Homo sapiens: one gene and its partners. The protein of the gene in region 1 purifies or fractionates together with the protein of each later gene. This does not show direct contact. Each region holds a gene or a part of one and is shown on either strand. Other genes may lie near its edges.

Region 1 (7,000 bases):
CTTCTCAGCTTCCAGAACTATAAGAAATAAAGTTTTGTTGTTTAGAAGCCACCCAGTTCAGGCTGGCATGGTGGCTCATGCCTGTAATCACAGCACTTTGGGAGGGTAAGGTGGGAGGATCTCTTGAGGCCCAGAGTTCTAAACCAGACTAGGCAACATAGCAAGACTCTGTCTCTACAAAAAAAATTTTTAATTAGCTGGATGTGGTGGTGGTGCATGCCTATTGTCCCAGCTATTTGGGAGACTGAGGTGAGAGGACAGCTTGAGCCCAGGAATTCGAGGCTATAGTAAGCTACGATCATGCCACCACACTCCAGCCTAGGTGATAGAGTAAGACCCTGTCAAAAAAAAAAATGGAGTAAGACACCTGTTCTATGTATCTTGGTGAATCTTGAGTAAACCTTTCATTATAGCAAAAAGTTAAAAGGCAAGAGATATTTTGTTAGAGGACAGACTCCTGAGTCCTGATCTTGTCCTTTCTCTTTCCTTTAGTGAATTCTTACTCTTGTCCTGTTAATGACTTTGTAGCTTGCATAGCTTAAAATGAAGTGCTCTGTTAAATGTGTCTATGCATTTGAGAACTTCAGGGTGCAAGTCTTGCAGAGTTAACTCACAGAGCTTATGTCAGTTGCTTGACACAGTGATAGCAACCATAGCGATGGAAAGTGGTTGGCTGTAGTAACTATCAAGGTGGTTAAGAATGTGAACTCAGAGCCAGGATGCCTGCGTGTAAATATTAGCTCTGCCACTTATTAGTTGTGTGACCCTTAGCAGACCTCTTAATTCTCTGAGCCTCAGTTTTCTCACCTGTGTATTGGAATAATAACTTTAAGGAGTTGTTGTGATAATCCGTGAATGAATATTTGTAAAAGTCGTAGAACAATGCCTAGCACATAGAATTGCTACGTAAGTGTTAAAATAATAATAGTTAATACTTATGTAGCAATAGCTTTGTAATATGCAGAACTATCCCGTTTTACACATAGGGTTTTGTAAGTCACCCCATGATTACACAGCTAATTAGGATTCACAGTCAGCTCTGTCTAAGGATAAAGCCCATATTTCCACTAACCTACACAGCTCTCATATTTAAGTCATTCAACAGTACTTTTAGGAACCCCCTCTTTTATCTTGCTTTTTGATTCCCAGTCATTTCCTATTACTCCCTACCATACTATAACCATGGCAGACATGATTAATCAATCACTTTCTTTCTTTCTTTCTTTCTTATTTTCTTTCTTTCTTTCTTTTTCTTTCTTTCTTTCTTTCTTTCTTTCTTTCTTTCTTTCTTTCTTATCTTTCTTTTCTTTTCTTTTTTAACTGAATCTAGTGATGGCTTCAGATTTCTTCTCAATCTAGCAATCCCAACAGCCCATACCATAGCCAATCAGAGCTGGCATGTAAAATGAAACACAGGGGCACTGATTTTTGGAGTATTTTTCTGAAGAGCCTTTCCCACTTTGCTTTTTGTTCCAAGGCAGAGCAAATTCCCTTAGCCACTGCCAGGTCTCAAAACATTCTTTCCAGGTTTGGCCACATGCCTAAACTCTTTGGCATCTGGTAAAATGGCTCCCCATGCAAGGTCTTCAGGGGCTTATTTTTAAACTTACAGGCCTCTTCTCATGCCCAGAACAACTCTCTGTACTCTCCTTTTCTTCCTACTCACAGGCCCTAGAACCTCAACCTTCTTTTCTCCCCTCTTTGAAGATGCTACTGCCCAGTGCCTTGCCTGCCCTGCAGTGGCTCCCAGCTCCACCTCTCTGTCTGTCCTGAAGACAGGCCTGCAGGCAATTTCTTGTTAAAGGCTTGGCTATTTATTACCACAGAGAAACCACACACACGGAAGTCACTAGGGCTAGGAAAGCTCACAGAGGTGTAAGGGGCACAGTTCTGGGGCTCTTTGTTGTGACAGTAGCAGGAAGGCTGATGAGATGACCAGAGCCCTCTGCTTTTATTCCTGGAGTGGGATCATCAGCAGTTCCCCTCCTTCTGGCTGAGTCCTTTCTTTCTGGGGCTGAAGAGCAGAGCAACAAGAGCCTCTCGCCTTTTCTTTCTCTCTCCTGATTCTCATTGATTCAACACACATTTATTGAGTTCCCACCTTGGGGCAGGACAGGCAGATGGAAGTGAGGAAGCCACAGTCGCTGTCCTCAGTGGTCTGTCTGGTCCTTCTTTTAAAGATAGATATGCTGAAATATTTAGGGGGAGAAGTGTCATGATGTTTACAACTTCCAAAAATATATATGTACATATGAAGTTCAATTAAGTAAATATGTCAACATGTTAGCAACTGGTGGATCTGGTGAAAGGTATATGAGTATTTATTCTTCAGACTTTTCAGCGGTCTTGAAATGTTTCAAGCGAAAAAAAGAAAAAGGAAATCAAACAAAAAATTAAGGCTACTCAAGCTGCATTTGTGTTTCAAATGAACTTGATATGATTATCGAACAACAAAAAAGTTACTATGGCCGTTAGGCCAGTGATGGATTGAGGAAGGGCAGTGTACAGAAATTCTAAAGGCAGGAAGGCCAGGTGGGAGGTTATTGCAGAGGTGTAATTAGTAGGACTCGGTGATTGAAGGAGGAATTAGGAGGGAGAAGTTGAAGAGGAATCTGAGAACCCCAGAGAAGGAGTTTCTGTAGGGGAGGTGCTAATTTCAGTTGTGAATGTAGGGGCTTTGAGATACTTGTGCAGCACCCTGAGGAGACAGTTGCACATTCATCCCTTTGGTCCATAAATGTTTTCTGAGGGCTTATATTGCCAGGCACTTGTCTAGATGCTGGGTGTATGGCAATGAATGAAACAAAATTTCCTGCCTTCATGGGGCTTATAGTCTGTCATTTGGATGGCAGCCAGTACACCGGTGATGACGAGGCAGTCTGTTGGAAGATGGTAATTGCTGAGGGGATGCAATTTGTGCATTGTTGGGGTTAGAGGCTTTTGACTAAGAGACTGAGAGACATGAGGGGGCAAGCCATGTAGATATCTGGGAAGAGGATTCCAGGCAGCAGGAATAGCACGTGGCCAAGGCTCTGAGGCAGGAGGCTGTCTGGCAAGGAGGCCGGTGTGATCACGCGATACCTTATGGAAGGATGCTGTAATGACTTTGGTTTTTGCTCTGAGAGAGACAGGAAGGCCTTGGAAGGTTTTGAACAGAGCACAGCACAATGCGACTCCTATTTTCACAGGTTCATTCTGGCTGCTTTGTTGAAAATCAGCTGAAGGGAGACAAAGGCAGAATAATATAGTCAAAGGCTAATGTGCCAGGGTGGAGCCACAGAAGGTGGTAAAAATTCTGGATCTATTTTGAAAGTGGAACTGACAAGATTTGCTGTCAGTGCACATGGGAATAAGGAACAGAGAGGGGTTAAGGAAACACCAAGCTGATTTTTTTGTGGAGCAATTTAAAAAACGGAGTCACAGCCGGGCACAGTGGCTCACACCTGTAATCCCAGCACTTTGGGAGACCAAGGTGAGTGGATCACCTGAGGTCAGGAGTTCAAGAACAGCCTGGCCAGCATGGCGAAACTGCCTCTCTACTAAAAATACAAAAACTAGCTGGGCGTGGTGGTGCACACATGTAATCCCAGCTACTAGGGAGGCTGAGGCAGGAGAATTGCTCTAACCCAGGAGGCGGAGGTTGCAGTGAGCCAAGATTGTGCCACTGCATTCCAGCTTGAGAGACAGAACAAAACTCCATCTCAAAAATAAAAATAAAAACTAAATGGAGTCACCCGAACTGATTTGGGGAAGATTATGGGAAGGGCATGTTTCGGGGGAAATACCAGAAGCTCAGTTTTGGACACGTGGATTACTATAAGTGCAGATGCCAAATGGCATCTGGAGTCTGGAATCCATGTGAGATGGCTGGCCTGGAGATAGAAATTTGGGAGTTTTCAGCATATAAATTATATTTAAAGCCATGAGTCAGGATGAAGTCTCCTAAGGAGGGAGTTTAGAGAAAGAAGAGAAGAAATCGCTAAGGTGTTCCAACATTTAGATATTCAGGAGGTAGGAGCAACCAGTGAAAGAGACTGAGAATGAGCCATCAGAAAGGTGGAGGAAAAGCAGGTGAGCCGAGTCCCCCGGGCCACGTGCAGGAAGCATGTAAGGAGGAGAGAGCGGGCACATAGTCTGCATCTCACGCACCCATGCCTCAACCCTAGTGAGGAACAAGTCCTGTGGTGCAGTTCTTTGCATGCCGGGACCTTGTTAGCCAGAAGATGTTCTCTCAGACTCTGCCCCATTCCAGTTTCTCTTGGTTCCAGATCTCTGCCTTTTACTCTACCTCAAGCTTGTCCAACCCGTAGCCCACAGGCCACAGGCAGTGCTGGACAGCTTTGGATGCAGCCCAACACAAATTCATCAACTTTCTTAAAACATAATGAGATTTTTGTGTGTGTGTGATTTTTTTTGTTTAGCTCATCAGCTATGTTTCATGTTAGTGTATTTTATGTGTGGCCCAAGACAATTCTTCTTTCAGTGTGGTCCAGGGAAGCCAGAAGATAGGACACCCCACCCTACACATTCTTAAGCTGTCCAGCATCACTTCCTTGGTTCTCCAGTTCTCTATCCCTGACTTCCTATCAGTTTTCTACCTCTTTATAACTCTGATCCCTCTCTTAATTCCCCACAATCAGCTTATCCCCAGGACTTCAGTTCTGCAAAAATTTCTTGAGAACCTACTTAATCTACTGGAATGTCTTTGACTTCAAATACCAGAAACACTGATTTACGGCAGCTTAAACACATGGGTTGATTCTGTCACATAAGAAGTTTGGAGGAGGTAGGTATTGATGGCATTGATTCAGCAGTTCGATGACATAAGAGCTGACCATTCTGTGTAGCTCTTGACCTCTCCCTCATGGTCTCAAGGTGGCTGCCTAGCTCCAGCCATTATGGCCCCATGCAAGGCAGGAGGAAGGGGGAGTTGACACTTCATCCAGAAAGGAAAAGCTTTCTCAGATATTCCCAGTAGATTTCCACTTAAGTCTCTGTGCATCAGATCTATATTATGTGGCTACTACTAGCTGCAAAGAAGGCTGGTAAAATCTTTATTTGGATTTTCCTCTCTCTCATATGGAAACAGGCAAAGGAGAAAAGGATGGGAAGAGCTGTTGGATCAGCCAGCTATCAAGGCTGCCACACTACCAAGTGCCAAATGCTTGCCATGAACTGGAAATACAGAAATGATTAACGTAGTACCCGTCCTGTCCCTGGAGCTTGCGTTCTAGTAAGGAAACATAAGAATGAACGGAGTATCTTGGTTTGGTTTGGTGGAGACCAGGAGCCTTCCCTGACCCCCATGATCTGGTCAGGTGCCCCTCCTTGATGCTAAAACAATATCCCATGCTTACATCTACCAAGGCATCTAAGCACACTGTATTGCCATTATATATTTACTGGTGTCTTCCCCTCCCTTCCCCCAAATGTGGACTAACTGGGGACTTATCTTTGAATCTCTAGTGCCTGGGTGCCTGGTATATTCGTAGAGGTTGAGTAAATGTTTGTTGAATGAATCAAAGAAATGTCAAGGGAACCCCCTAATTACCTTCTTGTCCTGGGTTGGGCCCTTATCCCATCTTAGCTTTGTTGTTGTTGCTGTTGTTGTTGAGAAAGAGCCTTGCTTTGTCACCCAGGCTGGAGTGCAGTGGTGCGATCTGTGTTTACTGCAACCTCCGCCTCCCTGGTTCAAGCAATTCCCCTGTCTCAGCCTCCCAAGGAGCTGGGATCACAGGTGCGTGCCACCACATCCAACTAATTTTTTCTTTTTTGAGACAGAGTCTCTTTCTGTCGCCCAGGCTGGAGTGCAATGGTGCGATCTTGGCCGACTGCAACCTCTGTCTCGCAGGTTCAAGCGATTCTCCTACCTCAGCCTCCTGACTAGCTGGGATTACAGGCGCCTGTCACCACGCCCAGCTAATTTTTGTATTTTTAGTAGAGACAGCGTTTTACCATGTTGGCCAGGCTGGTCTCGAACTCCTGACCCCAGATGATCCACCCACCTCAGCCTCCCAAAGTGCTGGGATTACAGGGGTGAGCCACCACGCCTGGCCCCACACCCAGCTAATTTTTGTATTTTTAGTAGAGACGGGGTTTCACCATGTTGGCCAGGCTGGTCTCGAACTCCTGACCTCAAGTGATCTGCCCACCTAGGCCTCCCAAGGTGCTGGGATTACAGGCGTGAGCCACCGTGCCCAGCCCCTTAGCATTTTTAGCTAGTTAACTCATATTTACATTCTAATAGCAAAATCTCTAACACCTTGCCAGAAAACAGTGCTGACTCCCCAATCACTTTTGTAATGTTAAAAATAAATTTATTTATTCTCACATTCAGTAGAACTCTGAACTTACAAATTTACACCCAGTAAAGTCACAACACAGCATCTAAAAAGCTAAAAGTACCTATATACTCGAGTCTCATAGTACTTAGAAAATGGGATGCTTAATTTTTCAATTTGTTAGGCTGGGCGTGGTGGCTCACGCCTGTAATCCCAGCACTTTGGGAGGCTGAGGCGGGTGGATCACGAGGTCAGGAGTTCAAGACCAGCCTGGCCAAGATGCTGAAACCCCATCTCTACTAAATATGCAAAAATTAGTTGGGCATGGTGGCACGCGTCTGTAATCCCAGCTACTTTGGAGGCTGAGGCAGGAGAATCGCGTAAACCCGGGTGCCAGAGGTTACAGTGAGCCAAGATCAAGCGACTGCACTCCAGCCTGGGCGACAGAACAAGACTTCGTCCCAAAAGAAAAAAAACATTTTTTTTTCAATTTGTTGTTTTTTATTTCAAAGAGATGTATAGTTAATCTGACTCATTTGAATAACAGTGAGTGAATTGCAGATACTGTTATCAAAGATAGCAATTCTACAGGCATAAATAATTTTTTTATTATTATACTTTAAGTTCTAGGGTACATGTGCACAACGTGCAGGTTTGTTACATAGGTATACATGGGCCATGTTAGTTTGCTGCACCCATTAACTTGTCATTTACATTAG
Region 2 (2,951 bases), on another chromosome or scaffold:
GAAGCCTGTCTTGTTATTGTATATATTGATTTCTCTCTTTTTTTTTTTTTTTTTTTTTTTTGAGACGGGAGTCTTTCTCTGATGCCCAGGCTGGAGTGCAGTGGCATGATCTCAGCTCACTGCAAGCTCCGCCTCCCGGGTTCATGCCATTCTCCTGCCTCAGCCTCCTGAGTAGCTGGGACTGCAGGCGCCTGCCACCACACCCAGCTAATTTTTTGTATTTTTAGTAGAGACGGGATTTCACCGTGTAATGTTAGCCAGGATGGTCTCGATCTCCTGACCTTGTGATCCACTCGCCTCGGCCTCCCAAAGTGGGATTACAGGCGTGAGCCACCGCGCCCGGCCTGTATATATTGATTTAAACACTTCAGTTCCTGTATGATTCTCTTAGCCAGGGCCATGATGGGATTCCCTGGGGATAGGTTAAGTTGTGGTGTCTAAAACCTAAGTCCTGTGACTTTAAGAAGTATCTGCCAAGATTTGCCAAGATTTCCTAGATGCTAGTTTTCCAAAGTTCTTAACTGAAATATTTACCTTTTGAATTGTCAGTGATGTAGATACAAACACTAGATTCTTCATAATTTTATTCACACGATATACTGGGCTGAAAAAGATAATTTCTTGATTAAAAAAACACCTATTAAATGATCACCCAGTAGTGAACATTTATTTATTTATTTTATTGTTTATTTTTGAGACTGAGTCTCACTGTTGCCCTGGCTGGAGTGCAGTGGTGTGATCTTAGCTCACTGCAACCTCCGCCTCCCAAGTTCAAGAGATTCTCCTGCCTCAGCCTCCTGAGTAGCTGAGATGACGGGCGTGTGCCAACACACCTGGCTAATTTTGGTATTTTTAGTAGAGATGGGGTTTCACCATGTTGGCCAGGCTTGTCTTGAGCTCCTGATCTCATCTCAAGCCACCCTTCTTGGCCTCCGAAAGTGCTGGGATTACAGGCATGAGGCACCGCGCCGGGCCGAACATTTAATTTTTGATTGTAGAACTTGAATATCTCTTGCAGTGACACTTTGGTTATCACTTGATCAGAAAAATACTCGTCCCAGCTCAAACATTACCTTAGAATAGAAAGTGAGAATTATTTCATGACGGGCAAATTATGGGTACAAACTAAAATGACTTCCAAGATTGTGATTAATGAGAAATGCTCCTGAAGTAAGGTAAATGTTTGCCCTTTCTCACGTGGCAACCTATGAATTGGAGGTACGGGTGCTTGATTTGATGTTGAGCTGTACATTATAAATTTACAGCTAGAACTTTTTCCAAATGCTGTCTTTAAAAGCAGAACCTTGAGGTCTACTCTCAAATTTTAAAAAGTGGAACCTTTTCAAGAATTACTTTTAATGCATTTGCAAATAGTAATTTGAAACTTCCAAATAGAGTTAGTAATGATAACAAAGTCAGCCTCTTTTCTGCTAATAATTTTCTATCTCAAACTATCTTATTAGCATAGCCCCTGTATTTGTGAAAAGATGGTAACTGATCATAGTACAGAGCATTTCCATCTTACCTCTATGGTAATGAGGATGACAATCATCCACTCCAAGCGGAGTGCCCTCTTCTCATTCAGGTGATTCCGCATTAGATCTGTTAGTTCCATGCAGTGCTGAAGTTTTTCATTCATGACCTATGTAAGAAAAATTTCAGTAACATGTATTTAAACAATTTAATACGGTCATACACATAAAAATTCTATAGCTATACAGTGAAAAATCCTGCTCCTCAGTCCTCTCCCCAAAGGCAGCCACCAACATTATCAGTTTCTTGTGAATCCGTCCAGAGACATTTTGTAATGTACAAATTTAACTGCAAGAAATACTTTGCATACTGAAGCTCTTCTATTTGTAAGATTTTGATGGAAGAACTAAAAATAGGTTTTTGAGTCCTAGTTTTTAGTAGCTGCCCTTTTTAGCAGTTAAAAGAGGCAAACTTGAAACATAATGTTTTTTAGCAAGACCTAAAGATAATTTACTTTCTACTAGAAAATCTACGCTTAACATTTGACCTGCTGTACACACACCACTAGATGGCATTGCTTTCAACTGAACTGCAACAGTTCTGCATTCCGATGCCTCCAAACAAGCTGGCTGTGGGGGTTCAAAGAAAATAAAGTCCCTGAATTCAAAATTTGGATGTGACAACTTTTTTTTTTGTTGTTGTTGTTGTTTTTTGGGATGGAGTCTCCCTCTGTCGCCCAGGCCGGAGTGTAATGGCGGATCTCGGCTCACTGCAAGCTCTGCCTCCTGGGATCACGCCATTCTCCTGCCTCAGCCTCCCAAATAGCTGGGACTACAGGTGCCCGCCACCACGCCCGGCTAATTTTTGTATTTTTAGTAGAGATGATGTTAGCCAGGATGGTCTCGATCTCCTGACCTTGTGATCCGCCCGCCTCGGCCTCCCAAAGTGCTGGGATTACAGGCGTGAGCCACCGTGCCAGGCCTGGATGTGATAACTGTTAAATACCTACCTAATATCTTTATATATCACTTGCTACTGGAAATCCTGAAAGCAAAATTTTAAAACAGTTTGTCTCATGGGTATGCTGAAGTTACAGGTTTGGTCAGTGAACATTAAGAGATGAATCACAGGTACGTGTTCAGGGGTTGATTGGAATGCGTTAACTGCACCATGTTACGATTTTTGCACATAGCATTAAACTGCCTTACTAGGCTGGGCTCGGTGGCTTATGCCTGTAATCCTAGCATTTTGGGAGGCTGAGGCAGGAGGCGCACTTGAGCTCAGGAGTTGGAGACCAGCCTGGGCAACACAGTGAAACCCTGTCTCTACAAAAAAATTAGCCAGGCATGGTGGTGTGTGCCTGTAGTTCTAGCTACTTGGCAGGGATGAGGTGGGAGGATTGCTTGAGCTCAGGTGGTCAAGGCTGCAATGAGCCAAGATCATGCCACTGCACTCCAGCCTGGGTGCCAAAGTGAGAT
Region 3 (5,224 bases), on another chromosome or scaffold:
CAGCCACAAAGATCTGGGAAGTGTTTTTCCAGCGTACAAGTTGCTCATAACCTTGCGTGGCAGACATTATTTGTTTGTAATATGGAGATGCTATGCATTTTGACCTTTCTAGATTGTGTCTAGCTGGTTCATGCCCCATCAGCCCAGCCTGCCACATGCCTCGATGTGGCACATGTCAGATACACCTCGGTATCAATACAACTAGCATCACCACAGCCCTTTTCTCTGAGAGCTCTCCCTTTAGGGGAAAGTCCTCTATATTCTCAGTCCTTGGCACAGGGTAGGTACTGGGCAAATGTCTGTCAATTATGGATCTTGTGAATTTTGAAAGGGCCTGCCAAGTCTTTGGGAAATGATGAAAAAGATACCTGTCTGAAATGGGTTAGGAAGAAGTTTTTTTGAGGATAGGTTTATGACTCTTCCTAGATCTATGATCCCATTTTATAAATTAGAAAATCTACCATTTTGGGACTAACTCCTCAAAATAAGAGTCAACATACTTAATTTAAAAAAAGTTTTATTAAATCATTTAGACTTGAAAGAAGTCACAAGTTAACACACTTAAGTGTGTTCTGTACACCACCAACCCAAATGGATTGATTTCAGAATTTTTATAAATAAAACATAAACATATTTACAGTGAAAAATAAAAACATGTTAGCAAGTGAGATGATTAAACTGTTACCTATAATCAGTTTGGGGGAAGTACCAACCTACAGGATTACATATAAGACACTTAAGATTTCATTAGGCTTAAAAAGTCCATAGTTGAAGAAGTTAGTTGTAATATATATGATCCATTTCTTACTACGGCTTTTTTCCTCCCAAAACTAGACCTTTCAACCAATTTACATAAAAAGCTTCATTTTCCCTTTATTGGAGGTAAAAGTACAAAAAGCTGTAAACCCACCCTAGAACCATCTAAGGAATAAAGCTATTGAATGCTACAAATAGGACTATAAAACTACGGACATAAACCGTTATACAGTTTGTGCTACTTGTCCTCCAAAATAGTGCAGATTCCTAATTTACCCGCCAGGGACAAAAATGGAGTCAGCTTTTTCTAGAAATCAGTTTCAAAATCATCATATCTCTAGAAAGCATATTTCTAGAACAATACAGTTACCACACAGGGGGACTTTCCTTCTTCTGCATTATAAAAATATATCCATTTTAGTTCTCACTATATATATATATTAGGGATTGCTGCTACCTCCTTAGGCAAATGGTGAGGGCTATAAAGCTTGGCCAGCAGCCAGTTTCAAGAGACTAACAAAGAACAAAGATAGCCCTTTCCTTAAGTATAGCAAAACTCAGGAGTTGGCTCAAATTAGGTTATGCCCCCAAATCCAGCTTAAATTTGATATAAAAAAAGTAGTCCACAAAAAAATTGAGCGAAGAACAAACTTTTCAAGTCTGCAATTTTGGACAGGCATATTCTAAGAAGTAGGCTATTATCTGCATCACCTATTAGGGTTGCTAGCACAACTTAAGGCTAATTGCTTGGCAAAGGGCTATGGGAGTTGTTGGACTGTCTTGAATGTTTTGTTCCCGATGAACTCAAGGAGCGAGACCTCTGTCTGAGCACTGTTTTTCCTGGAAAGTCCAAGTCCTCAAATACAGCATTTTCAATGATGTTTATAGCTTCAGGTCGTTCCATGGGGGATGGAGAGAGCATGTCTTGAACCATCACGTACTGAAAATATAAAAATTGTTTTGTGATAAAACGGCCAGGTTTGATCACTGTACAGTTTTTAAAATCAGTGCTGGCAAAATATTTCTGTACATATTTTAAGCTTTTGAGCCATATTCGAGTTTTCAAGTCTCTGATACAACTACTCAGCTCTGCCGTCAATGCACAAAAGCATCCAGAGACAATTTGTAAATTAATGGGCATGGCTGTGTTCCAATAGAACTTTATTATAAAAATAGGTGGCAGGCTGGATTTGACCTGTGGGCACTAGTTTGCCAACCCTCATTCCAAAAAAACATGGACAATTTTTGGGTAATTTGATTTTCTAACACATTATAAAGGATTATTTAATCACATCCCTGAAACATAAATATGATTTTTAAAAATCATCTTATAATTGCATGTAAATCTACAATTATCTCAATAGAAATTTTAATTAGAAAAAATTATGGCAGAGATCAGCAACCAACACCTTTTCTTGGTTTTTAAAAATCTCTTTGAACGTAACATGTACTCTTATGAGCCACCCTGGGAATAGATTCATCAAGTTTGCAAAATACATGATGACAATTTTTAGTAAAACAGACTTAAGTATATGTAGGTATTAATATATTGTTATAAAGTCCATTTTTTAATGCAACCCTTCATTATAATACTGAAAGATAAATTTTGACTTTTTCCAATTTGAAAATGAACACATACTAACTCACTTCAACTTAATTACTTAAGGAAATTCAAGATTTATCAATATATAAATTTCACAGGTGCTACAGTGTGGAACACTGGACATTAGGCTGAAGGAGCCAGGCCCCAGCTCCAGTGTTTGGTTTTAACAAATTCTGGGCTCTTGGGAGCAGGTCTCTTTCCTCTCTAGACCTTTGGCTTCCTCATCTGTAAAATAGGGGAAACTGAGTCGACTGCTAAGGACCGCTTACGTTCTAAAGATGATTCTAAAGAAGATAAAAGATGAGAATTACACATACCTCACAAGGATATTTCTGAGTAAATAATGGTGGAAATTTGAGATTTCTTACATCAGTTAAGGTCTAAAAAGAAAAAAAGTATCACTTATTAAGTTTATTTTGACATACAACATGAAAATATTTTTTGATACTCTAACAAAATGACTAAGAGGTTGTACATCTATCAAATGGAAAATTTATCAATAGCTTTTCCTGATTTAATAACTACATATGTTTCCTGAGCACAGATGTACACTCCATCAAATATCCTCAAAATATACAGCTGGTCTTCCACATCCACAGATTCCACATCCAAGGATTCAACCAACCACAGAATGAAAATATTTAAAAAATTTAAAAATAGATGGTTGCATCTGTACTGGACAGATACAGATTTTTTTCTTGTCATTATTCCCTCATCAATACAGTATAATACTTATTTACATAGAATTTACATTATGTTAGGTACTGTAATTTACAGAAGATTTAAAATACACAGAATATATGTAGGTTCTATACAAATATTACACCATTTTATATAAGGGACTTGAGCATCTGCAGATTTGGTATCCACAGGGAGTCCTGGAACCAATCCCCTGTGGATACCAAGATGACTGTGTGTGTGTGTGTGTGTGTGTGTGTGTGTGTATGTACATTTACATATATGTGTATATATGTATGTGTGGAGGGAGGGAGAAAGAGAAAGGGGAGAGAGAGAGAGAGAAAGGGCCATATTAAAGCACAAAGAAAATATTGGAAATCTTTGTTTCTATGGAGTTGCCTCTTCTGAATATTTCATAAAAACTGAATGATATAAAAGTGGACTTTTGTGTCTGGCTTTTTTCACTCAGCATGTTTTCAAGATTCATCTACGTTGCGGCACATGTTAGTATTTCCTTCCTTGTAATGGTTGAATACTTTTCATTGTATAAAATACCACACTTTGTTTTTCCATTCATCAGCTGATGAGCATTTTGGTGGTTTCTACTTTTGGATATTAGAAATAATGCTCATATGAACAGTTGTATACAAGCTTTTGTCTATGTTTTCATTTCCCTTGAGTACATACCTAGGAGTAGAATTACTGGATTCTATGGTAATTCTATGTTTAACTGTTTAAGGAACTGCCAGACTGTTTTCCAAAGCAGCTGCACCATTTTACATTCCACCAGCAACGTATGAGGGTTCCAATTTCTCCACATCCTAGCCAACACTTGACATTTCCTTTTTTTTTAATTTTTTTATTACAGATACCCTAGATGGTGCTGAAGTGGTATCTCATTGTGGTTTTGATTTGCATTTCCCTAATGCCCAACGATGTTGAGCATCTTTTCACATGCTTATTGGCCATTTGTTTATCCTCTTTGGAGAAAGTTCTATTGCTTTGCCCCTTTTTAAAATGAGTTGTCTTTTTGTTGAGTTGTAATAGTTCTTTATGTATTCTGAATTCTAGACACTTTTCGGATATAGGATTTACAAATATTTTCTCCCATTCTGTGAGCTGCCTTTTCACTTTCTATTTCATTTAATTAATTTATTTAGAGATAGGGTCTCATGGTGCCCAGGCTATTTGCAGGCATAATCATAGCTTACTGTAGCCGTGAACTCCTGGTCTCAAGGAATTCCTTTTGCCTCAAGCTTCCCACGTAGCTGGGACTACAGGCATGTGCTACCACGTCCACCTTGTCTTTTCACTTTCTTGACAGTATTCTCTGAGGCATTTATAACTATATAAATTTTGATGCCATCTGATTCTTGATCCTTTACTTAGGTTAGACCTGTTTTATTTTCCTTTCTGGAAGCTTTTAGGGCCTTTATTTCTGGTGTTCTGAAAATGGTTATTTTGACTGTTTTTTTTTTTTTTTCATTCATTGTACAGAACATTTGGTAGGTCCTTTCGGTTAGAAGATATGAGTCATTTTGCTCTATGTGAGAACTACATCCTCTTCTACCATGGCCAGAGATCAATAAGTAAGATCTAAAACTGATAAAATAAGAAATAGTGACAAGAGCCTAAACTTTGAAAATATGGAGATAAGTACCAGGGACAACAACTAGAAGAGGTGAGGGTAGCTACTTATGAAAGATAGGGAAGAATGTGACAGAGGCCCACTTTATTTTCAGAGACAGGGTCTTGCTGTGTCGCCCAGGCTGGAGTGCAGTGGCACAATCATAGTGATCTTCCTGCCTTAGCCTCTCAAGGCATGTGCTACCATGCCTTGCTAATTTTTAAATTTTTTGTAGAGATGGGGTCTTACTATGTTGCCCAGGCTGGTGTTGAACTCTGGCCTCAAGTGATCTTCCTGCTTGAGCCTCCCAAAGTGTTGGGATTAGAGGTGTGAGCCACCATGCCTGGCCAGAGGGCTACTTTTTTTTTTTTTTTCGAGACAGAGTCTCACTCTGTCACCCAGGCTGGAGTGCAGTGGCGCGATCTCTGCTCAATGCAAGCTCCGCCTCCCGGGTTCACACCATTCTCCTGCCTCAGCCTCCAGAGTAGCTGGGACTACAGGCACGTGCCACCATGCCCGGCTAATTTTTTGTATTTTTAGCAGAGATGGGGTTTTACCGT
Region 4 (7,762 bases), about 27 Mb from region 1:
GCAATCTCTGTCTCCTGGGTTCATGCGATTCTCCTGCCTCAGCCTCCCAAGTAGCTGGGATTACAGGCACACACTGCCACGCCCAGCTAATTTTTTTGTATTTTTAGTAGAGACGGGGTTTCACCATGTTGGCCAGGCGGGTCTTGAACTTCTGACCTCATGATCTGCCCACCTCAGCCTCCCAAAGTGCTAGCATTACAGGCGTGAGCCACCGGGCCTGGCCTCTCAAAGGCTTTTTTATTCAAGTTGTGTTTCTGTCTTATTTGCAGGTCATTATTTGTAAGATTAAGGCAGGACCTATGTCCTCTTTGAATTGCCTGATGCTCCAAGAACATTGCTATAAATGTTTTTAACTTTCAATATAATACAAACATTACAACATGACATTTCAGGCATTGTTATTAGGATAATATTAGGATAAAAGTTTTCCAAATTAATATTAGAAAACTAGATCTATGTACTGTATCAATTCTTTGTCTTTAATGCCTTAATTCAAGTAATCTACTTTTGAAGGATTATTTACAAACCAAAGCCAAGTTGAAATGTACTAACACTGGTTAAAATTCTGCAATTCATACTTTTAAACAAAAGATCCGCCAGACACAGTGGCTCATGACTGTAATCCCAGCACTTTGGGAGGCTGAGGCGGGCGGATCTTGAGGCCAGGAGTTGGAGACCAGCCTGGCCAACATGGTGAAACCCCATCTCTAATAAAAATACAAAAATTAGCCTGGCATGGTGGCACGCACCTGTAATCCCAGCTACTCAGGAGGCTGAAGCATAAGAATCTCTTGAACCCAGGTGGCAGAAGCTGCAGTGAGCCAAGTTGCACCACTGCACTCCAGCCTGGGATACAGAGTGAGACAGTCTTAAAAAAAAAAAAAAAAAAAATCCTTTTGTAATGCATATTTTACAAATTCATAATTTCATCATTTTTCTTAAAGCAAACTAAAACATAAATTCATTATACACAATTGTAAATTTATCCCCAAAGTGTTTTCTAAGGCTTCCAATTTTTAAATGAACCAAGGAACTGAATATTGACAAATGTATAAGTACCCTGAATGTGTTATAAAAAACATATTTGACTGTCTTTAAAATGCAGTAACATTCTAAGGAAAATACAGTAGCATCTTTCCACAGATCAGAGATTCAATAACTATTATGATTCAATCAAAGAGAAATAAACCATGGCCATTTTTAATTAAACAGGCATTTCTAAGCACCTGTGTACACGGTATTGCTGTTCAAACGGTTGACATGGAATGTGACCGCAATAACTTGATGTCCATAATTAAAGACCCAAAAGGTAGCTTAAGTTTCATCTATTTCCTTTCTCAGCCCTTTGAGCAGGTATATTATAGTCACTCCATACACGGTTAATATTAAAAAAAAATAAAAGTAACAAACATTTGAAATTAGTTGTACTTTTATAGAGAACAGTTTTAAATTGCATGGCCTTACTTTTCCTATTCCAACCTATTTTATAAAACTAGCATGATCTTAATAATTTCACTGCAAAACAGGTTCTAGCAAGCATAGAAACTGATCATAGCCTCTCAGCAAAATCAAGTTTAGATGAAACTCTAGGAAATTAGCAAAATTTAACAATCAATTCACCCACGATTCTCCACAATTCTTGCTCTCTCTAGATACGAAGGGAGGCAAAAACTGTTTTAAAGGATTATTTCAAAAGCAGCACTAATTTTGGGAAAAACTTAACTGCCATGCAGGAGACACTGTATTACTACTCAGACGTCATTTAAGTCTTCTAGCAGCAGAAAGGCAAAAACATCATTAAATTTTTTATTTAATGCATATATACTTACATTATCAGTTAAAGTTTACCCATCTGTTTACGTTGTCCAAGTTACCTATTATTTCAGAAAGCATTTAAATAAAATGAAATTAGGTTACGTTCTGCAACGCAGATGTGTCTCATAAAGAAGAGTGTTAAATGACTTTTGTGAATGGAAAATCTGCATATACTGTTGCTTCGCCTCAGCCAGTCTTGAGTGGGTGGTTCAATGAACCTAAAGCATGCTGCCTGTGAAGCTCCTTGGAACCTGATTCCACTCTTGAGAGAGGGCTTAGAAACAAACATTAAATTTAAAAGCACAGCAAAGGCTTGGCTTTCCTCCTACGTTACAAGAAGGCCGGGAGAACTGAGGCTTAGAGGAACAACACCGTGTCGCTTGGCTCTGCAAAGGCGGGTGCGGTCTGCGGTGCGCGGCACAGCCTTCTCTGGGGCTGTCACAGGAAAGAAGGAGCCTCGCCTTAACCGCACCGAGCGACAAAGCGCCAGCTCTCCTGGGCGCGGGGGCTCCCAACGAGGCCCATGCCATCAACCTATCAAACTTCAGGAGGGACAGACACCCGGGGCGGTCGAAATGCTCCAACAGCCTCCCACCCCCGTTCCCCTGCCGCGGCTTTTGTAAGGCTGCAGATGCACCTACTGTGGGCCCCTAAACACTCCACCCTGCCAGCCTTTCCAATCCCCCTACTCCAAAAGGGAACAAAGGAGCCAAAGAACTCCTCGGCGGGGGTGGCCAGGAGTCCCCGACAGCCCGAGCTCAGAACGTGGCAATAAGGGTGCGCAGTCGCCCTGAGGGGTGCGAACCCAGCACCCCAACCTCAGGAATGGAGCAACACTCACCCGTGCGGAGCTCCCAGGGAGGCGGGACGCAAGGAGCCGGTTCCTCCGAGGTCGCCGCGGCGCCGGGGTCCGAGGCCCCGTAAGCGTCTAGTCAGACCCCAACTTCTCTCGGCCGCTGTCGTCGGCGGCAGCTGGGGCGCGAGCCTGGACGAAGGGCGCTGCCCAGCGGCCGCGGAGGCACTGCCGGCTCAGCCCCCGAGCGGGGCGGGAACTTTCGGCCCCGAGGTCCACCAGCCCGGGCGGACCCCCACCTTCCCTCAGTCGGCTTGCTACCGGCAGCGGCTACTGCGGCGTCCAAAGCTAACACTACAGCCGCCGCCTGGCCAGGAGCGCGTCGCGGCCTAATGTTGTCATCCGCCGCGTCGCCGCCTTTCTGGGCACCCAGAACCGCGAAGATCCTTCACATTCTAGTGCCCTCCCCCTGCCCCGCCCGCCCCCCGGATCACGGGCTTCGGCCACGCCCTCTTCCCGTCACGTGACGGTGCGCGGAGGCGGTGGTGGAGTTGCTTCCCCTGCTAGGCGGGCTCGAACCGGGCGGGAGTCACTGTCCACCTTGCTTCGCCAGGGTGTTATCGCCAGCCAGTCCCCTTCCGCATGCCCAAGGGCAGCCTCAGGAAGCGAGCCCACCACCGTCGGCCCAGCGCCTGTTGATCGGCCAGGCCTTCTGGGCCGGTCATACTGGGCCCTTCCTAACCTGAGGAGATTGCACAGTAGGGCTCCCTGGTCTGGTCAGGGCTCAGTTAGGACCCCTCTCCAGCCTTAGGCTTGGTGAAAGCTTTAGCGAAACAGAAAAAAGAACGCATCGTGGTGTAGAGTGTATGGCCTAAGAAGCATTCGGTAACTAAACTACTTGTTCCTATTTCTAGTGGCACATTAACCGTGGCATTTAATTTACTGCTTTCCTCATTAGAGGTTTTTTTTTTTTTGAGGAAACGGTGTATTTCAATCATGCTGGGATGAAAACAGCCTAGCAAACTTATTTTTGTTCCTTGTTATGTTCAGGATCCTGCTGCCAGTTTTACAGTCATTAAGTTTTACAGTGTGTTAGGTTGGTGACAGTTTAAACGGGTACGCAGGAATTTGACAGTTTGTTCCATTTTTTAAAATAAAGCCTAATTCTTGATTTTTTTTCTAATGCCTTAATTTTTTTTTCCTAATTCCTTAACTCTAGGACTTAACCTTTTGCTTTCTTTTTTAGCCATGATCCGAAGAACCCTCTAGCCGCCTAATGAAATCCTAACTATACAGAAGTAAGGGAGGTAGAATAAAGATCATACTCAAACCCTGATCACAATGAAGGCAAATGAGAAAGCTTTCTGTAATAATTAAATTGGGGTCATAACTCATTTTCCCTTGTAGCCCAGAACTAAGGATTTTTTTCTTAAGCTATTCTCATCTCATTACATTTTCTTAACAAGAAATCAGAAGGCATTCTGATAAGCTGGATACATTGAAATGAATAAGCAATAGAGTTTGGCCTATATAATTATTATTAATATATTTCATAGCAGCTCTAAAAAAATCATAGACTTACATTGTTTTATGTTACCCAAGAAAGAAAACAAAGGCTGCCAATGAAACTATGCCATACCGCTGATATGTAAGGCACCTTTAAGCCACATCTTTTTCCTTTTTTTTTTGAGACAGGGTCTCACTCTGTCTCCCAGACTGGAGTGCAGAGGCGCAATCTCGGCCCACTGCAATTTCCGCCTCCCGGTTCAAGCGATTCTCCTCCCTTAGCCTCCCAAGGAGCTGAGATTACAGGCATGCGCCACCATGCCCAGCTAATTTTTGTATTTTTAGTAGAGAGGAGGTTTCACCATTTTGGCAAGGCTGGTGTTGAACTCGTGACCTCAAATGATTCACCCGCCTCGACCTCCCAAAATGCTGGGATTACAGGCATGAGCCACCGCGCCCGGCCTGAGACACATCTTGAATTCAGAGATGTAAACATGTCAGAAACAACGAGTCTTAGAATCTCTGAGATATTGTCATGAACTGGGAAACAACGAGTCTTAGAATCTCTGAGATATTGTCATGAACTGGGAAACAACGAGTCTTAGAATCTCTGAGATATTGTCATGAACTGGTGTTCCAAAGAGGAAAAGATTCTACCAGGTTCTGTTCTGAAGCCTGAGAGACTGTAGTACAAATAAATGTGAAGGAAGTTTATTATTCTGTGACATTATTTCAGCAAAGCTAGTAACTTTGGAGTTTGTTAACAGATTAACTTGTCTCCTGTTTTCTAGAGGCATGTTTTTCAACCTGCAACTCAAAAATCAATTTCATTTTTATATGAAATAGGCTAGGATGTAATACAATATAAAATACCAGAGTGCATAATGTCTAGTAAGGGCAAAAATTGCTTCCTGAAACTTTTTGTTTCAAATATGGTGGAAGGTGAGAGTATGTCCTATGTTGTGATTTAAACAATTTCTTACTGTGAGTTGCAATCAAATAGATTTGGAAAAGAATGTTCCTAGAGCATAGATAATATGCAAAATACACCATCTGGACCCCGTTTTTCTGGTACTTTTATTTTACTTTGGAAACTGAGACTAAAGATTAGAAAAAGGTGGCAAATTGCCTTGCCTAATTCTCTTCTGCCTCAGCCCCAATTTCATACATTGGCTTTTGAAAATTTGATCATTTGTTGGAAAAAGCAATGTACTGGAAGCAAGGAAGCCTAGGTTACAGACTTAGCTAATGAGATGTATGACTAGATAAATTACTCCCTGCATTTCAAGTTCCAATCAAGTAGGACCACATGCTGTTTGAGAAATGATACTAAACCACCTTTTTTTTTTCCCGGTGGATGGCAATCACATTGGAAACAAACAGACACGGTATACTCAGGATTATGCAAATTACTGACAGCCTACGTTTAACTTCTTTCAGCTCCACTCAAAAAAAAGAAAGTCCTAATGCAAGTAATTGAAAGTGAAGATATTGCAAAACAAATGTAAGTATATCTTTCACAATCTTCTCTACTTTGATTATCACTAGTATAATAGTTACTTGTCATGAATAACTAATGATTTTGACATACTTAACAACTGATTGCAACACAAAAATATATTAATCCACTACAGTTGAAAAATCATTTTTTCAGATCCTTTCAAATCTGATATTGTGATTCCAGGAATGATAATTCAATCTAGCATTTTCAATGTAATGACAACATAAACAGAAACTAATATGTGATCCTGCACTGTAACTGAAAAATATTCAGTAACTCCCAGAGATGCCCTGCAAGTTTGCTACTCTTACAATGATTTTAAGAATGACATTTTGAAATAAAGCTTTTTTATTATAACGATCCGATTTTAACTCCAATGAGAATTCATCTCTTTTGCCTACTGCTTTATTAATTATACATTTCTAAGAATGGGAAGTTCTTTCCAAATTAGTTTAAGCACTGACAGGCTTGACAGCCTTTCCCACAGTATATTTCAACCCTGACCTAGAATGACAGAGATGTTGCTTGAGGTTGTTTGCTTTTTTCCATTTGGCTTATCCCATTAGACAATTATGTTGCTGACAATTACTAATCAGGATTCTAGACTAAAATCCTCATTTTCTGGAAGAGAATTTAGATTAAGAGCAACCTCAGCCATAAATAAGGTATTCAACACAGCTTTGAAGACTTGTATTCTTGTTGGTCATGTGATTTGCTTTAGCCAGTGCTTTGTGAGCAGATGTTAAATGCTAAATCAAAGCAGAGGCTTTAAATTTGATTGCAAAATTCAGGTCAATCTCTTACTCTTGTGCCACCTGCCATGAGAAAGGTATGTTCCAGATAAGATCTCAGAATAAGAAAATAGATGGAGCAGACCTGAAACTCTCACCCTGTACAGAACTGAAGCAACTGACTTGCAGCTCCTGACATACGGCTACTGATGTGAAACAAGAGTAAAACAAAAATATTTGTTGTTGTGAATCACAAATATTTTTGAGATTGTTTGTTGCGTAGCATAATCTTGCAAATCATCTAAAGTGAATTTGAGCCAACAAACTCATGAGTCAAAGGCTAAATGTACTGTGGAACAATAATATTTGTCTATTTAATAAAATAAATAACAGACATCTACAAACTAGTCAACCAGCTATTTGGTAAATATCCACCTAAAATTTATGTTAAGAAGCAGTCTTTATAAAATCTGTAAATTTGCATGCAAAATGTTTGCATGTAAGATATTTACATACTGATTTTAAATATTTCTGTTTAGTATTATTTGTCTTAAATATCCCTTGAGGAAAATTTGGATAGTAAAGTATAAAGAGAATATAGGATTCTGTTTCTAGAAATATCAAGGACTAGTTCACACTTGTCACACTGAAAACAAAATCCCTGGAAAAAACATTTTTTAAATCTTATTAAATATATTGATTAACTGACAATAGGGTAAGAAATTATTAAGTTAAAAAACTAAATGAAGGCAGGAACCTAGAGTTTAGCAGAGTCAGCCAACTTTTATCTCAAGGGCATGTGCTAAACCCAGTTACTAGGAGCATTGGTTTTCGTGACCTTGTAAGAAAGACACAAAACCCATTACCTGCATTATACACACACACACACACACACACACACACACACACACACAAACAACTGCAATTCCAAGGATTATTAATTTGATGTAAGGATATACTAGAAATAAACTTGCTGCTTACTAGCATAGGCACCCATCCCCCAGAATCTACAAAGAAAATTAGCCGTCTTAAACCTTGGCACCTGGTGGACAGGGGAAAAGCAAAATCGTATCTGAGAATTTGGAACTGCAATCCAATTCTCACACAAAAACGTAGCTTGAATTCATACTAGCTGGGTGGTCCCCAAAAACTTCAGGCTAATAATTAAGATTTTTTTTTTTTTTTTTTTTTAGACAGGGATTCTCTGTCGCCCTGGCTGGAGTGCAGTGGCATGATCTCAGCTCACTGCAACCTCCGCCTCCCAGGTTCAAGCAATTCTCCTGCCTCACCCTCCCGAGTAGCTGGGACTACAGGCACGTGCCACCACGCCCAGCTAATTTTTTTATTTTTAGTAGAGACAGGGGTTTCACCATGTTGGCTAGGCTGGTCTCGAACTCCTGACCTCGGGTAATCCGC

Evidence for each region.
Region 2: the proteins of GLT8D2 (region 1) and RMND1 purify together in Homo sapiens (affinity purification with mass spectrometry; 3 studies listed by BioGRID and IntAct, with this or other methods). This does not show direct contact.
Region 3: the proteins of GLT8D2 (region 1) and EIF2AK3 purify together in Homo sapiens (affinity purification with mass spectrometry; 3 studies listed by BioGRID and IntAct, with this or other methods). This does not show direct contact.
Region 4: the proteins of GLT8D2 (region 1) and OSBPL8 purify together in Homo sapiens (affinity purification with mass spectrometry; 3 studies listed by BioGRID and IntAct, with this or other methods). This does not show direct contact.

Annotation. Positions count from the first base shown.
Region 1 is NC_000012.12:104,040,188-104,047,187, reverse strand, and holds part of GLT8D2 (glycosyltransferase 8 domain-containing protein 2), read left to right. Parts: intron 1-7,000.
Region 2 is NC_000006.12:151,404,195-151,407,145, forward strand, and holds the end of RMND1 (required for meiotic nuclear division protein 1 homolog), read right to left. Parts: intron 1,643-2,951; coding exon 1,526-1,642; intron 1,074-1,525; coding exon 1,041-1,073; 3' UTR 568-1,040; downstream 1-567. UniProt on the Homo sapiens protein: Required for mitochondrial translation, possibly by coordinating the assembly or maintenance of the mitochondrial ribosome.
Region 3 is NC_000002.12:88,556,241-88,561,464, forward strand, and holds the end of EIF2AK3 (eukaryotic translation initiation factor 2-alpha kinase 3 isoform 1 precursor), read right to left. Parts: intron 2,740-5,224; coding exon 2,677-2,739; intron 1,697-2,676; coding exon 1,496-1,696; 3' UTR 501-1,495; downstream 1-500. UniProt on the Homo sapiens protein: Metabolic-stress sensing protein kinase that phosphorylates the alpha subunit of eukaryotic translation initiation factor 2 (EIF2S1/eIF-2-alpha) in response to various stress, such as unfolded protein response (UPR).
Region 4 is NC_000012.12:76,556,741-76,564,502, forward strand, and holds the start of OSBPL8 (oxysterol-binding protein-related protein 8), read right to left. Parts: upstream 3,032-7,762; 5' UTR 2,657-3,031; intron 2,269-2,656; exon of another isoform or gene 1,832-2,268; coding exon of another isoform or gene 1,830-1,831; intron 1-1,829. UniProt on the Homo sapiens protein: Lipid transporter involved in lipid countertransport between the endoplasmic reticulum and the plasma membrane: specifically exchanges phosphatidylserine with phosphatidylinositol 4-phosphate (PI4P), delivering phosphatidylserine to the plasma membrane in exchange for PI4P, which is degraded by the SAC1/SACM1L phosphatase in the endoplasmic reticulum.